Regions from separate parts of the Homo sapiens genome. Here region 1 is linked to region 2. The links come from fine-mapping of genetic effects on plasma protein levels. Region 2 holds a variant in brackets. A gene starts in the other region. All regions are shown on their forward strands.

Region 1 (8,552 bases), not on the chromosome of region 2:
TTAAAAAATGTCTTCCCTGTCAATCATAAAATTTCATATTTAAAGAAACTGGAAAATAGAAAATCAAATATGCAAAGTACTCTTACTCAGAAATAATCATTAGTAACATTTTCCACACAGTTGAAATGAATATAGGTTTATCGTTTTATTTATCTAAGATTTACTAATAGTTCTTTCTCTTTTTTTCCTTTTTTTTTTTTTTTTTGAGATGGAGTCTCGCTCTGTCGCCCAGGCTGGAGTGCAGTGGCGCAATCTCGGCTCACTGCAAGCTCTACCTCCCGGGTTCACGCCATTCTCCTACCTCAGCCTCCCAAGTAGCTGAGACTACAGGTGCCCACCACCACACCCAGCTAATTTATTTTTTATTTTTACTAGAGACGGGGTTTCACTGTGTTAGCCAGGATGGTCTTGATCTCCTGACCTCATGATCCACCCGCCTCGGCCTCCCAAAGTGCTGGGATTACAGGCGTAAGTCACCACGCCTGGCCAAACTAATAGTTCTTAACGTACACAAAATGAAATGTGGTTGATGACCTATTTTCATATTTAATAAAGCTTGCTTTGGGTTAAGAATGGTGAGTGTTACAAAAACCTTATAATGCAAGAAGCAATTACACAGATAAAAAACAACTGAAGTATTTCATCATATGACCCAGGGACTAAATAAAGATGGTAAAAATCATGACTCCTGAAGTCCATATCTAATCAATATCTCAGAGTTTTACAGCAGGACTTTAAGCAAAGCACAGTGCTGAGAAACAAACTGAGCAGGTGACAGGAGTCAGCAAACTCTTTTTGTCTTTTTTCTTTTTTTTTTTTTTTTGAGACGGAGTCTCGCTCTGCCACCCACGCTGGAGTGCAGTGGTGCGATCTTGGCTCACTGCAACCTCCGCCTCCTGGGTTCAAGTGATTCTCCTACCTCAGCCTCCCGAGTTGCTGGGACTACAGGCAAACGCCACCACGCCCGGCTAATTTTGGTATTTTTAGTAGAGACAGGGTTTCACCATATTGGTCAGGTTGGTCTTGAACTCCTGACCTCATGATCTGCTTGCCTCTGCCTCCCAAAGTCCTGGGATTACAAGTGTGAGTCAACGCACCCGACCAGTGAACTCTTAAAGATCCAGACAGTGTTTTAGGTTTTGCAGGCCATTTGGTCTCTATCTCAGCTCTCAAATTGTAGCTTGAAAGCAGTCACAGACAGTGCATAAATGAATAGGCATGGCTGTGTTCCAATCAAACTTTATGATTTATACAGACACTCAGCCTACTCCTCAAACAGGACATCAAGTAGCATCGTAGTCTATGTTGGGTATCCTTCATCTAACCAGACATGGCCATGAACTTCTGTAACGGTGTCCCCTTTGGTCACGTGAAAACTGTGAAGCATCAAACACTGCCAATTCAAAGGCCAGAAGCCCTTCCGGCTACTTGCTATATGCAAACCTAGAAAACACACAGGAGTAGAAGGCCAAAAGCCCTTCAGGCTACTTGCTATATGCAAACCTAGAAAACACACGCAAGTAGAGGAGGTACAGAACTCTTGACAGCCAGATCCAAAGAGATAACAGAGTAACCATCCCTGGACACTCACCTCTTCCGGAGAGCTGTTCCCAATTCACCAACCAAATCCCGATGAGGCCCCACGTCTTTGGAGTTCCAGTTCCAAGACACAGGACTCGGCCAGTTTGTGAAGCCTTCGTGATGCTTTGTCGTCAAAACTACATACCTGTGGACAGCAAAACCACATGAGCAAAGGAAGTGGGCAGTGAACTTGCATGAACTTGCCCAGCATGCCTGAGGCTTTTTAAATAGCTGAAAGAACTTGACCACAACAAATGTACTTGTACCAGTGACTATATTAGTGATATCCAGGAAGCTGCTGCAGTCACAATTCCCCTTGGGCATTGCTCCAAGAATGGAAGCAGATTTGAGGAAGTCCCAACCCTCAGTCCCCAGCAAAGGAGGAGGCCCAGAGGGAAGGAAGGAGTGGGTAAGGGAAAAGAAGTGCACCTTAGCTCTCTGATTCTTCAACACTTCTGGTAGGAACGATTAACTTTCTTTCATTCTTTGCCCTGAAGGAGAAAGAGCTCTACTGGAAATGGCAGATAATAGAAAACTAAGCCATTTGCTGGCCAGGCATGGTGGCTCACACCTGTAATCCCAGCACTTTGGGAGGCCAAGGTGGGCGGATTACCTGAGGTCAGGGGTTCAAGACCAACCTGGCCAATGAGGCGAAAACCCATCTCAACTAAAAATACAAAAATTAGCCGGGCATGGTGGTGTGTGCCTGTAGTCCCAGGTATTTGAGAGGCTGGGGCATAAGAATCACTTGAGCCTGGGAGACAGAGGTTGCAGTGAGCCGAGATCATGCAACTGTACTCCAGCCTGGGCTACAGAGCAAAACTGTTTCAAAACAACAATAACAACAAAATAGAAAACTTTCTAGAAAACTAAGCTGTTTGGTTTACCAAGCCTACATAAATTGCCTCTCATTTATTATAGAGGTGACAAAAGACCCAATAACTGGGAGAAAAGGCAAGTGTTGAAATAACAACCAAATCACTCAATATTTAATTTGCTTTTATGGCACAAAAATAGGTAATGCACTTTATGGTTCAATCATTGGCCAGAGTAGGGAACTCCAGGATTTGAAGGGCCAGATAGTATTTTAGGCTCTGTGGGAGCACATTCCTCTCTGTAGTGTATTCTTCTTTAAAACATTTTACAACCCTTTAAAAATGTAAAAACCATTCTCACCTCATGGGCCTTAAAAAACTGGCAGAGGACCAATCCCTCTGGCCAGTTTGCAGACCCTGGTGCAGTGGAAACAACCTTGACGTCATGAGACCTGGAGTCTAGGACATTATATTCCTTCCTCTCTTTGGGCCAGTCATCTCATCCATGAAATAAAAGGCATGGAAAGAGGTTATCTCCCAGATTTTAATTTTTCTCACTTGTAAGTTATGGATCCCTAAGGCCCCTAGGAGACAAACACTTCCTCTGCTTAATCAAGTCTTATACTCCCATACATTTAATGGCAAACACTAAATGCCAGTTGTAACTTCTCTTTAGTACAAGTGAATTCAAAGTTCAAGAGAAACGAAAACCCGGAAGATGGCTGAGGAACCAAGGTAAGGATGGAAGACTGCTCTAAGCCAGGGGCTGGGGAAACCTCCCCGCCTCCATTTTTACTCTTCTCCAACCCACTTCTCTCCCAGCAGCCGAATGAATCTTTCTAGAAGCTGATAGTAACCACTCCCTGACTTAACATCTGTCAATACAGGGCTCTCAAGGCTCACTCCTTCAGGACAAGCCCCTGCCTTGACAACTTCATGGGTCGTGGTCTCCCCTTATCCCCACCCCAGCGCTCTCTACTCTGTTCTCTGAACCAGCCACCCCCAAGTTCCAACAGTTCTCAGAGAGAGTCAGACCCTTCCTGGACACTTCCTACGTAAAAGGGATTGAGAGGAGCAAACGAATGACTATCTGTACTGTTGCCCAAATACACTGCACACCAGAACTCCCCTCTCTTTCCCTCTTAGAGACATTAGGGCTCAAAGGGTTGTATCCTTATATAACCCCTTTCTACAACCATAGAAGAGGCTGCAGGGAGGCTGAAGTGACATGTCCAGGTTCACAGTTGAATTAGAACCAGGCTCCACACCACTGATTTGAAACCCTGGAGTCCTGATAGTGCTGTCAATCTGAAAGGGACATCAGGTATGGCCTAACTCAGCCCTCTCGGTGCACAGGTGCAGATACCCAGGGCTTCCCAGCCTGCCATCTCCCTGAACCTTCATTTATCAGTCCCCAGTCAAACGCACCTCCTCCTCCTCATCAGGTGTGCCAGGCTCACTCCTGTGGCCGCAGGAGGCCACACGCGGGCCCCGGGGTCATGGGGGCGACCGGCAGCTGCGCGCCCCAGCTGGCCGCCCAGCCCCACCTCCTGTTTGCCGCCCGAGCCGGGAAGGGGCGCCGCTCCCCGGGACCACACTCACTTGGCGCCCGCGGCCTGGAAGAGGTCGGCCCACTCCTCCGGGTGGAAGAAGCGCGCAGTGAACTGCGGTCCGAAGTCGGCGTAGCTGAAGCCGGGCGGGTAGTTGTCGCGCATGAAGCGCTGGTACTGCGGCCGCCCCTCGCCCTGCCAGTGCCACCAGAACCACTCGCTGCCCCAGGCGGGCACCGAGAACACGCCCCAGTGGATGAACACCCCGAACTTGGCTTCGTCGAACCAGGCCGGCAGCGGCCGAGAATCCAGGCTCGGCCAGTCTGGGGTGTAGCGGCGCGGAGGCTGGGCCCGACGCACCGACTCGGCCGCTCCGAGGAAGAGCAGCAGCAGCAACAGCGCGGGACCCGCCGGCCGCGACCTCATCCCCGGAGCCCGCATCGCTACCCCTCAGCGACGCGGCCCACTCTTAACGCGCAGGTGCCCGCGGGCGGCTCCGCCCACTCTGACTAACGATTGGCCCGGAAGGAAAAAGGGGTGGGACAACCTGGACAGGTTGGCCCGAGTCGCTTCCTCCTCGGGTCGGAGGAGCGCCCTCTGGTGCTCAAGAAGGGAAAGACGCAGGGAGGCGTTGACAGCGCTTCGCTGAAGGACGAATAAAAACCTTGAAAAGGGACTTAACTGCGAGGTTAAATCGTGGAGGTGAGCAAGGCCCAGTGTGTGCGGAGAACTCACATTTAAGAAGGAGTCCATTGAGCCGGACGCAGTGGCTCACGCCTGTAATCCTAACACTTTCGGAAGTCGAGGCGGGAGGATCGCTCTGAGCCCACAAGTTGGAGACTAGCCTGTCTCTATAAAAAATAAACAAAATGAGCCTGGCGTAGTGGTGCACGTCTGGAGTCCCAGCTACTCGAGAGGCTGAGGTGGGAGGTTCGGGATCGCTTGAGCCCGGGAAGTCTGGGCTGCAGTGAACCGAACCGTGATCACGCCTCTGGGAGTAGTCCATTTTGCCGCAGCAATCCTGCAGGGGTAGGCTGAAGTGAGATCACGAGTTTTATTTAGTGATCACTTGGGAGCCATAGGGGGCTTTTGAGTTGTCCTGTAGCACAAGGCTGGAGGAGGAGATAACAGACCGGAAGGGTATCTAACAGCCCTGACAGAAATAAGGAGGTAGAGGGATGATGGGAAGAAACGTTATGAAAGGAGAGGAAAGAGAAAACTGGGTACTGAAAGAGGGAGAGCGGGCAGGACCGTTTCATCTGTCTGGTATTTACTGAGCTTTCTTTGGGAATTCCGAGGCATTTCAAATAGCTTAGTTTGTACCGAGATACCGCCACTGCACTCCAGCCCCTGGGCGACAGAGCCAGACCAAGGAAGAAAGAAAGGAAGGAAGGAAGGAAGGAAGGAGGAAGGAAGGAAGGAAGGAGGAAGTGGAGAGCCAAGAGGACCCAGGATTGCCTGGCAGGGAAGTTCCCCAGTTCCTCTGCAATTTGCACATGCTGCACATACTCAAACGGGAGGTGAGGCCATTAGCGAGGGAAATACGGAAGTCAGAAGTCTCTGAACAGACAAGGTGGCTCACGCCTGTAATCCCAGCACTTTGGGAGGCCGAGGTGGGCAGATCACCTGAGGTCGGGAGTTTGAGACCAGCCTGGCCAACATGGTGAAACCCCATCTCTACTAAAAATACAAAAATTAGCCGGGCATGGGGTGCGCCTGTAATCCCAGCTACTCAGGAGGCTGAGGCAGGAGAATTGCTTGAACTCGGGAGGTGGAGGTTACAGTGAGCCGAGATCGCACCACTGCACTCCAGCCTGGGCGACAGAGTGAGACTCGGTCTCAAAAAAAAAAAAAAAAAAAAAGAAAAAGAAAAGGAAGAAGAAGTCTCATGACTCCACGTAGCACACTCAGTTCCCACATGCCAGTGAGAGAATGGCAGCACATCAGAGTTGGGACTTTGAAGATCCTAGGCACCATCCTCTTCCCTACCCTTCCCATTGTACCGAGGAGGGAACTGAAGCCCAGAGAGGGCTGGGGGGCTGCCCAAGATCATGCAGCTAGTTTGAGTCAGAGGTGGGACTAGAATACGTGTCTCCAGGTGCAAAATCTATGCCTTTGTTCATGCTGCTTCTTTCTTGCACCTCATGAGAAGTCAGAGCCTATGTTGACAGAACCCAGCACTTCCTCACTCTGGCAGTGACAAGGAGAGAAAATGACTATTGCTGAATCACAGCTGTTTTCTTTTCTTTTCTTTTCTTTTTTCTTTTCTTTTCTTTTGAGATGCAGTCTTGCTCTGTCGCCCAGGCTGGAATGCAGTGCTGCAATCTCAGCTCACTGCAACCTCCACCTCCTGGGTTCAAGCCATTCTCCTGCCTCAGCCTCCCGAGTAGCTGGGTTTACAGGTACGCCACCACGCCTGGCTAATTTTTGTATTTTTAATACAGATGGGGTTTCGCCGTGTTGGCCAGGCTGGTCTCGAACTCCTGACCTCAAGTGATCCGCCAGCCTCAGCCTTCCAAAGTGCTGGGATTACAGGCATGAGCCACTGCACCCGGCCTACAGCTATTTTCTTTATCTTCTGTTTCTTTTTCTGCCAGATTATGTTGAAATATTGCCCAAAACAGTAAGCATGAACACCTTAGGAAAAAAACCGAACCCATCCACACACATTTTCTAGTAATCGGTTTGCATAGTGGTCTTTAATGTTACAGAGCTTGTCTTGGGGAAGATAAAATGGGACATTGTGATCTTCAATTTATTTCTCCTTATCCACATAACCAAAATGTGAACCTGCAGGGACAGGTGAGAGGCACTGATGTAGAGTGGACAGAACTGGAAGTTAGGAAACCTAGGTTTGTTGCACTGGACACCATCTCGTTTGTCTCCCTGAGCAAGTCTTGTCCACTGTCTGGGCCCATTTCCTCAACCAAACAACAAGGGCAGTTCTCAGTGATATCTAGGTCCCTTTTGCACCCTTGTTCTCCTCCCTCATAAGCTCTGCTTCTCCACTTAAAGCAGACATAGGGGCTGGGAGTGGTGGCTCACACCTGTAATCCTAGCACTTTGGGAGGCTAAGGTGGGTGGATCACTTGAAGTCAGGAGTTCAAGACCAGCCTGGCCAATATGGTGAAATTCCATCTCTACTAACAATACAAAAATTAGCTGGGCATGGTGGCGGGTACCTGTAATCCCAGCTACATGGGAGGCTAAGGCAGGAGAACTGCTTGAACCCAGGAGGCAGAGGTTGCAGTGAGCCAAGATTGCATGCCACTGCACTCCAACCTGGGTGACAGAGTGAGATTCTATGTCAAAAAAAAAAAAAAAAAAAAAAAAAGCAGAAATACAGTGTGGTTCTAAAAGAAGAGAAGTAGAAAGTGTGGAGTTGCGTTTGATCAAATGATTTTTAGAATCTAGTTTTATTCATTCAAGAAGTATTTACTCAGTGCTTGTTTGTGCCAGGCACTTGGGCATTTTCTTTGCCAAAATGAGAAAGGATTCCACCGATGAATAAAGAAAGGCATGCTTCAACTTTAAGGAATGACAGTATATAAACATGCAAATTCACTTTTAAACATTTATGCTACTTGTTTGCCTTACAAAAAGATTGGTGTCTGGATTAAAACAAGATTTGATTTTCCAAAACATACGTCAGAGCTTTTCAGAAACAGTTCAGTTCCACACATATTGACCAGATCCCTTCAGATGCTCTGCTGGGTCCTGACTGAGCACTGGGGATGCAGAGGTCAACCTGGAGCTCATCTTGTTGAGGGAGGATAAACTAGTGACTGCCACTCAACACAGCCCAGTGGGTGGACTTTGTTCCTGGGTCTGTACTGAGTTGAATAGTGTCCGCCTAAACTTCTTGTCCACCTGGAATCTGTGAATGTGACCTTATTTGGAAACAGGGTCTCTACAGATATAATTGGTTAAATTAAGATGAAGTCATACTATTAGGATTAGGGTGGGCCCAAATCCAGTGACTGATATTCTTTAAAAAAGACACCAGGCCGGGTATGGTGGCTCACGTCTGTAATCCCAGCAATTTAGGAGGCCAAGGTGGGCGGATCACTTGAGGTCAGGAGTTCAAGACCAGCCTGGGCAAGATGGTGAAACCCCATCTCTACTAAAAATACAAAAATTAGCTGAGTGTGGTGGCGGGTGCCTGTAGTCCCAGCTATTTGGGAGGCTGAGGCAGGAGAATCACTTGAACCTGAGAGGTGGAGGTTGCAGTGAGCCAAGATCATGTCACTGCACTCCTGCCTGGACAACAGAATGAGATTCCGTCTCAAAAAAAAAAAAAAAAAAAAAAAAGACACCAAGAGACACAGAGGAAATGCCATATGAAGACAGAGTCAGAGGTAGGAGTGATGTTTCCACAAGCCAAGGAATGACAGGGACTGCCAGAAGTTGAAAGAGTCAAGGAATAATTCTCCCCTTAAACTTTTGGAGGGAGCAGGGCCCTACCACATCTTGATTTTGACTTCTGGCCTCCAGAATTATGAGACAGTAAATTTCTGTTGATAAGCCACTGGATTTGTGAAATTTATTACAGGAGATTAATACGGGGCCATTTAATAAAATGGAGTATATTGAGAATCTACGATGA
Region 2 (8,503 bases):
CAGTTCATGTAGAACAAATATTTAGTATCTTATTTTACTGTGTGCCAGGTTATTTCCATGTTCCCGAATTCAATGTAATCCTTAACAAACTGCTTTTCTCTGTTAGATTCCAGATGAGATGATCCAGTGCGTAGTCTGTGAAGACTGGTTCCATGGAAGGGTAAGGAAAATGTTCCACCTTTTGAAACCATTGTTGTCACAAAAAGATAAAGGTTATATTTTACATTATAATTAGTCTTCTAAAAATAAATTCTAATGATATGATCAGTGTATTATTACAGTATTTATAAAATAATGGGCATTTTGGACAATTTGGCAATCACAAGAAAATTTTTGGTGTTCTATATTCACAGCATCTTGGTGCCATTCCCCCTGAGAGTGGGGATTTTCAGGAGATGGTATGCCAGGCCTGCATGAAACGTTGTTCTTTTTTGTGGGCTTATGCTGCACAATTGGCAGGTAGGTATCTTTGTGAAGTTGGTGTGCCACAAACTTGTGCTTGTGAAATTTGTATGTTCAATTCAGAATTTTTAGCAACTATTTTTAACTGGGCTCTGTGGTTATAAAATAGTATATGTTCTGGCCAGGCATGGTGGCTCACGCCTGTAATCCCAGCACTTTGGGAGGCCAACAAGACAGATGGATCACCTGAGGTCAGGAGTTCGAGACCAGCCTGGCCAACATGGCGAAACCCCATCTCTACTAAAAATATGAAAATTAGCCTGGCGTCACGGCGCTTGCCTGTAATCCCAGCTACTCCAGAGGCTGAGGCAGGAGAATCACTTGAACCCAGGAGGCAGAGGTTGCAGTGAGCCGAGATCACGTCACTGCAGTCCAGCCTGGGCAATAGAACAAGACTCCATCCTCAAAAAAAAAAAAAAAAAAAAAGAATAGTATGTGTTCTTTCTCCACAAGGTGCATAGATTTGTTGGGATACTACCAAAAACAAATTTATACTTAAATGATATGATGCAGAGTATTGATGAGACCAGAGTTAGAGAATGGAGGAGGCAGTTTTTGAATGGGATTTTGAAAGATAAATAGAACTGAAATAAGTTGTTAATTCTAACACATGGTATCAGTTGGGGAGGAGGTGGTGTCTTAGTCTGTCTGGGGTGCTAAAACAAAATACCTTAGGCTGGGTAATTTATAAACAATAGACAGATATTTCTCACAGTTCTGGAGACTGGGAAGTCCAAAATTCAGGTGCCCGCAGAGTCAGTGTTTGGTTGAGGGCCCATTCCTCATAGACAGATCCTTCTACGTGTCCGTACCTGTTAAAAGGGGCAAACAAGCTCGCTTGGGCCTCTTTTATAAGTCAGAGCCCTCGTGAATGGGATTAGTGCCTTTATAAAAGTGGACTACAGGCACACACTACCATGCCCTGCTAATTTTGTATTTTCTGTAGAGACAGTGTTTCACCATGTTGCCCAGGCTGGTCTTGAACTCCTGAGCTCAAGTGATCCACTCATCTTGGCTTCCCAGACTGCTGGGATTACAGGCATGAGCCACCATGCCCAGTCTATCTGGTGCTTTTATTATACACTAAGAAATTAAATCAAAACAACTAATTAATGAATGGTCCTGAGGCATTAACTATCTTATTGGTAATGCTTTATGTATTTCTTTATTTTTAAGGTGGCAGTTACTCATGGTATCTGCTGCTTAGGCTTCATAATTTCTTGCCTTTCTCATCTTTAGAGACCAGTTCACCATACAAACCATGAGCAGCATAGCCATACCTCTGATCTCATCCTACAGTTTAGATTTGCCTTAGAGTTCTTTTGTTTTTCTGCCTTTTTTTTTTTTTTGAGACAGAGTCTCACTGTGTTATCCAGGCTGGAGTACAGTGGTGCTATCTCGGCTCACCTCAACCTTGCCTCCTGGGTTCAAGCGATTCTTGTGACGCGGCTTCCAGAGTAGCTGGGACTACAGGCACATGCCACCACACCTGGCAAATTTTTGTATTTTTAGTAGAGACAAGGCTTTTACCATGTTGGCCAGGCTGGTCTCAAACTCCTGATGTCAAGTGATCCACCCGCCTCGGTCTCCCAAAGTGCTGGGATTACAGGCATGAGCCACCACGCCCGGCCAGTTTGCCTCAGAGTTCTTAAGTGCTGCTCCCTTTCTGTTCACACCCTTTCCAGTGATCTCTCTCACTGTCCACAGATGCTGAACCTATCTATGTGTAGTTCTCATTCATTGGGTTTTTTTGTTTTTTCAAGACGGAATCTTGCTCTGTTGCCCAGGCTGGAGTGCAGTGGCACAATCTCTGCTCACTGTAACCTATGCCTCCTGGGTTCAGGCAATTCTCCTGCCTCAGCCTCCCAAGTAGCTGGGATTACAGGCATGCACCAGCATGCCTAGCTAATTCTTCTATTTTTAGTAGAGAAGGGGTTTCACCATGTTGGCCAGGCTGGTCTCGAACTCCTGACCTCAGGTGATCCACCCACCTTGGCCTCCCAGAGTGCTGTGATTACAGGTGTGAGCTACCATACCCAGCTTAATTGGGTTTTTTAAATTGATCTCCTGCCTCTCCCTTCATTTCCTCTCCCATCAGCAGATGGCTTCATCTCCTATTACATTGAAATGCTGGCATCCAATGTGAGCTCCCCTATCGTTTCTCTTCTCTGTCTCAGAGTATATCTGCCACTACACCCATCATTTTTTTTATTTCTTCCTCCCATAAAGAAAAGCTGTTTTTAAAAAATTACCCTTCTGTCTGTGTTTACAATTCAATCTCTTCCTCCTGCTTCTTGTATTATTCTGTCTCTAACAAGTACAGTACAATATTTTCTCCTTTATGTGTAAAGTGCTTAAGCAGTGATTGATATTTTCAAATAAACTGTTTAATTATTTGAATTCTTTGGGTTAGGCAGACATAACCTAAAGAAGCGTTGGAATTTTCTTTCTCAGTATTTCGGAGACTACGGTGGACTAATCTCTTTTTCCAGATTCTGAAATATTTTAATATCAGAAAAAGTGATTTTAGGTCAGATGTGGTGGCTCATGCCTGTAATCCCAGCACTTTGGGAGGCCGAGGCAGGTGGATCACCTGAGGTCAGGAGTTCCAGACCAGCCTGACCAACATGGAGAAACCCCATCTCTACTAAAAATAAAAAATAGCCAGGCATGCTGGTGCATGCCTGTAATCCCAGCTACTCAGGGGGCTGAGGCAGGAGAATTGCCTGAACCCAGGAGGTGGGGGTTGCAATGAGCCAAGATCACGCCATTGCACTCCAGCCTGGGCAACAAGAGCGAAACTCTATCTCAAAAAAAAAAAAAAAATAGCAAAAGCTATTGTATGCCTGATGTGGTGGCTCACACCTGTAATCCCAGCACTTTGGGAGGCTGAGGCAGGCAGATCACTTGACATCAGGAGTTCAAGACCAGCCTGGCCAACATGGCGAAACCCCGTCTCTACTAAAAATACAAAAAATTAGCCAGTCATGGTGGCACGCACCTGTAGTCCCAGCTACTCGGGTGGCTGAGGCATGAGAATTGCTTGAACCTGGGAGACAGAGGTTGCAGTGAGTCAAGACCATGCCACTGCACTCCAGTGTGGACGACAGAGTGAGACTCTGTCTGTAAAAAAAAAAAATAATAATAATAGAATAAGTGATTTTATTGTCTGTTGGGATTTTATTGTCCGTTAGGTCAGTGGATATGTGTGTATGTGTTTTTCTTTTTCTTTGAACTCACAGTAACCAAAATATCCACTGAGGATGATGGATTGGTGCGGAACATTGATGGAATAGGTGATCAGGAAGTTATCAAACCTGAAAATGGAGAGCATCAAGATAGTACCCTCAAAGAGGATGTTCCAGAACAGGGAAAGGATGATGTCCGGGAGGTTAAAGTAGAGCAGAACAGTGAACCATGTGCCGGCTCTAGTTCTGAATCTGATCTCCAGGTAATGTGTGAAGTACGAGCCATCAAGAAATAAGACTGGGCCAGGCGCGGTGGCTCATGCCCATAATCCCAGCACTTTGGGAGGCTGAGGTGGCGGATCACCTGAGGTCACGGGTTTGAGACCAGCCTTGGCAACATGGGTAAACCTCATCTCTACTAAAATTACAAAAACTAGCCAGGCATGGTGGCACATGCCTGTAATCCCAGCTACTCAGGAGGCTGAGGCAGGAGAATTGCTTGAACCCAGGAGGCGGAGGTTACAGTGATCCGAGATCATGCCACTGCACTCTAGCCTGGGCAACAGAATGAGATTCCGTCTCAAAAAAAAAAAAGAAAACTGAAGTGGAATTAATTCTGTAAACTTATGGCTTTGGATTTCAATTTTATCCTTTGCCTAAAGAAATCTC[T/G]TTACAAAATCTAAACTATGAAAACTATGGTAGTTTAAAAAACATGCTTCAAAACTTAATTTTATTTCAGACAGTGTTTAAGAATGAAAGCCTCAACGCAGAATCAAAATCTGGCTGCAAACTTCAGGAGCTTAAAGCTAAGCAGCTTATAAAGAAAGACACTGCCACCTATTGGCCCCTGAACTGGCGTAGCAAGTTGTGTACCTGCCAAGACTGTATGGTAAAGTATCTGATTGTGCTCAGTGTTAGCATGTTTTGTGTACTGGTGCCCCAAAATAAGAACACCTGGGGAAAACATTCAATTTTTGTACCAGAGGAAGAAAGGAAAATAAAAAGAACACCTGAACAATATATTTATGAAATTAATGTTTAGGAGACCCTCCAAATTTTTACATTAAGCAAATTTATGACATAGTACTTACAGTTGGAATGTTTGTGGAAGAAATGGATAATTATGCAGTATTTTAAATTTACTTATTTTAATTTTAGTTTACTTATCTTTGTTATATCAAAGTTGCTTGGAAACACTGGTTGAAAGTTATAGTAAATTGGCCAGGTGCTTTGGCTCACGCCTGTAATCCCAGCACTCTGGGAGGCCAAGTTAGGTCTCGATCACCTGAGGTCAGGAGTTCGAGACCAGCCTGACCAACATGGTGAAATCCTGTCTGTACTAAAAATACAAAATTAGCTGGGTGTGGTGGCACATGCCTGTAATCCCAGCTCCTTGGGAGGCCAAGGCAGGAGAATCGCTTGAACCCAGAAGGCGGAGGTTGCAATGAGTCGAGATCATGCCATTGCACTCCAGCCTGGGCAACGAGTGAAACTCCATCTCAAAAAAAAAAAAAGTTAACAGTAAATCAATGGTTTTTAAATAAAGATCTCATAGACCATATGACATCTGGGAAATTGGGAGATTTCTGAAAGAAATTTAGGCAAAAAGAATAAATCCTTCTAGCAATTCTGTGTTAAAGACGCTCCAGTTTTTCTAGGTCTTAATATAAAAAAATTACATTTTTAGTGATTCTCAGGAAATTGGCTTTCTGAGAATGATAAACAGTTCTAATGGGGAAACTCCTCTTTCTTTTTTTTTTTTTTTTTTCCCTAAAGAAAATGTATGGAGATCTAGATGTCTTATTCCTGACAGATGAATACGACACAGTTCTGGCTTATGAAAACAAAGGGAAGATTGCCCAGGCCACTGACAGGAGCGATCCCCTAATGGATACCCTTAGCAGCATGAATAGAGTCCAGCAAGTGGAACTCATTTGTGGTAAATACTGTGTGTGTGTGAAAATTCATCATTTCCTTCACTATGTAAAAAAATATAAAGGGGGCAGTAAACACCTATATTTTTAATTTAATACAAAGAATTAAAATTTTGAATTTTAGACCATTGCTTGATTTTCATATTGGTGGGTATTCAGCTGCTTTTACCATTGAATCAGAGTTACATGCTAGAATAATTACATGCTTGAGAAACCACAACATATGCTATTCTGATTAAGGGTAGATGGATGAATGCAAATTTTCCATCCATTGAAACAATTTTTGGACATTATGTGTCATGTTCTTGAGCAAGGCATGTCACCATTTTGACAGTTCTTGAGGTTGCTTCAGTGGTTCACAGGAAACCACTAGAGGAGAAAATACCCCCAAACCCTTGATTGAAGGCTTTTACATCCCCCCACCACCACCCAGCTGCAGCAGGCCAAACTTATTTCAGTGGTTTCTATCCCAGCCATTTCCACTTGGATGCCACCACTTTTATGTGACTTTTATAGCATCAGTCATTTCTGTCTTTTATTATTTATTTATTTATTTTGAGACAGGGTCTTGCTCTGTTGCCCAGGCTGGAGTGCAATGGTGCATTCTCAGCTCACTGCAACCTCTGCTGCCCAGGCTCAAGTGATTCTCCTGCCTCAGTCTCTCAAGTAGCTGTGACCACAGACGCATGCCACTGCGCCCCCCCAATTTTTTTTTTTTTTTTGAGATGGAGTCTCACTCTGTCACCCAGGCTGGAGTGCAGTGGCGCGATCTCGGCTCACTGCAACCTCTGCCTCCCAGGTTCAAGTGATTCTCCTGCCTCAGCCTCCCAAGTAGCTGGGATTACAGGCACCTGCCACCATGCTTGGCTAATTTACTTTGTATTTTTAGTAGAGACAAGGTTTTACCATGTTGGCCAAGCTGGTTTCGAACTTCTGACCTCAGGTGATCTACCTGCCTTGGCCTCCCAAAGTACTGGGATTACAGGCATGAGCCACCATGCCCAGTCCCCACTAATTTTTGTATTTTTAGTAGAGTCAGGGTTTCACCATGTCACCCAGGCTGGTCTCGAACTCCCGAGCTGAGGTGATCCACCTGCCTCAGCCTCCCAAAGTGCTGGGATTACAGGTGCAAGCCACTGCACCTGGCCGTGTCTTTTATTTATAATTATTAATTTCTTTTTGCCTTTATTAGAGTAAAAACTTTTCAAGGATAGAGGATGCACCTAAAAGATACTTGTAGCCCTCAAGGTACCTTGTACATAATATAAACTGTTAAGTGAGTCAGTTTGCTTGGGCTGGGCGCCATGGCTCACGCCTGTAATCCCAGCACTTTGGGAGGCCAAGGCAGGTGGATCACCTGAGGTCAGGAGTTCAAGACCAGCCTGGCTGACGTGGTGAAACCCTGTCTCTACTAAAAATATAAAAAAGTAGCCAGGCATGGTGGCGCGTGCCTGTAGTCCCAGCTACTCGGGAGGCGGAGGTTGCAGTGAGCCGAGATCGTGCCACTGCATTCCAGCCTGGGTGACAGAGTGAGACTCCATCTCAAAAAATAAAATAAATTAAATTAAATTAAATATTCAACAAGTCCAAGGTTATTTCAGCTACCAGAATTCCAGAGAAATAGGAAGCCCTTTTAAAAATTCTTAATCTTTATGGGATTAGGATATCTCTGCTTTTTATGCTTTTTAAAAAATTTTGCTTTTTTTTTTTTTAATGAAAAAGGGTCTCATATCAACATGGTAGACGTACAGATAATTTGGGAACGAGTTTCTATGCAGCTTTCACTTAAGAAAATTTTTATTTAGACTACATTATTAACAGACTCAGGTGTCAATGGCAAAGAATATTTTGTTTTTGAAAGCAAATGGTTTATCTAAACTTAAATACTTTTGTGGTTTTGATTTAGAATACAATGATTTGAAGACTGAACTTAAAGACTATCTCAAGAGATTTGCTGATGAAGGCACGGTATGTTGAGTTAAAGAATTCTAATCATAGCCCTGTAAGTTTTGAATGAAGGGTTTATTTCCTTTGACGATTAAAAATGACTGCGACTGGCGGGGTGCGGTGGCTCACACCTGTAATCCCAGTACTTTGGGAGGCCAATGTGGGTGGATCACAAGGTCAGGAGTTCAAGACCAGCCTAGCCAATATGGTGAAACCCCATCTCTACTAAAAATACGAAAATTAGCCAGGCGTGGTGATGGGCGCCTGTAGTCCCAGCTACTAGGGAGGCTGAGGCAGGAGACTCACTTGAACCCAGGAGGCGGAGGTTGTAGTGAGCCGAGAACACGCCACTGCACCCCAGCCTGGGCGACAGAGCAAGACCCTATTTCAAAAAAAAAAAAATGACTGCGACTTAAGTGGGTACTTGAGAGTTGAATTCAGGGACTGTTTTGAGCAAATTGGCAGGCTAAGGGGAATGAATAAGAGGTAGTGAAACATCAGAGTTACATTGGCAGTCCTTACCAACCCCAGCTAAGCCGGGAAGAATGATGGGAGGGCGCAGTCCCACAGCCTCTGAGAGAGTACTTGTAGCTTAGCAGAAGGTCATTGGAAGGAATCCGCAGTACTGATTCTGCTGGTCCTGACCTTGAAGCATGGATCTTTGGGACGGGGAGGGGAAAATGACTGGACAGGAAAAATTAACACCAGACCCAGTTTCTGGAATTCTAAGTTCCATGGTTTAGAATAGAAACTGGGCATGGTGGCCGGGTGCAGTGGCTCACGCCTTAATCCCAGCACTTTAGGAGGCTGAGGTGGGTGGATCACCTGAGGTCAGGAGTTCAAGACCAGCCTGGCCAACATGGTGAAACCTTGTCTCTACAAAAATACACAAATTAGCTGGGTATGAGGGCGGGTGCCTGTAATCCCAGCTACTCCGAGGCTGAGGCAGGAGAAACGCTTGAACCCCACAGG

Which allele goes with the higher level. Alleles are on the strand shown, and positions count from the first base shown. The strength of an association depends on the size of the effect and on how common the allele is.
In carriers of allele T in region 2, the plasma level of the protein whose gene starts at base 4,391 in region 1 tends to be lower than with G alone (weak association).

What was found. PIP is the chance, under the fine-mapping model, that this variant and not a neighbour inherited with it causes the effect. The UK Biobank Pharma Proteomics Project read protein levels with antibody pairs (Olink). The fine-mapping took linkage between variants from a reference panel, not from the people measured, so its PIPs are less certain.
Region 1: it holds the start of FUCA1, and the variant in region 2 is fine-mapped to the plasma level of the FUCA1 protein (UK Biobank, PIP 0.91).

What each region holds. Positions count from the first base shown.
Region 1 is chr1:23,863,900-23,872,451 of GRCh38, forward strand. FUCA1 (alpha-L-fucosidase 1) reads right to left here and starts at 4,391. Exons shown (of 8, transcript NM_000147.5): 1 at 3,999-4,391; 2 at 1,592-1,726. The coding sequence starts at 4,387. CNR2 (cannabinoid receptor 2) reads right to left here. Exons shown (of 2, transcript NM_001841.3): 2 at 6,616-8,552. RefSeq lists an enhancer at 1,353-2,552 and a silencer at 3,803-4,022.
Region 2 is chr14:93,214,823-93,223,325 of GRCh38, forward strand. UBR7 (ubiquitin protein ligase E3 component n-recognin 7) reads left to right here. Exons shown (of 11, transcript NM_175748.4): 5 at 107-160; 6 at 354-459; 7 at 3,705-3,913; 8 at 4,390-4,539; 9 at 5,427-5,589; 10 at 7,491-7,552. Among named protein-coding and RNA genes, the nearest start is that of UBR7, 12 kb to the left of the region's middle. The variant T/G (reference allele first, on the strand shown) is at 4,320.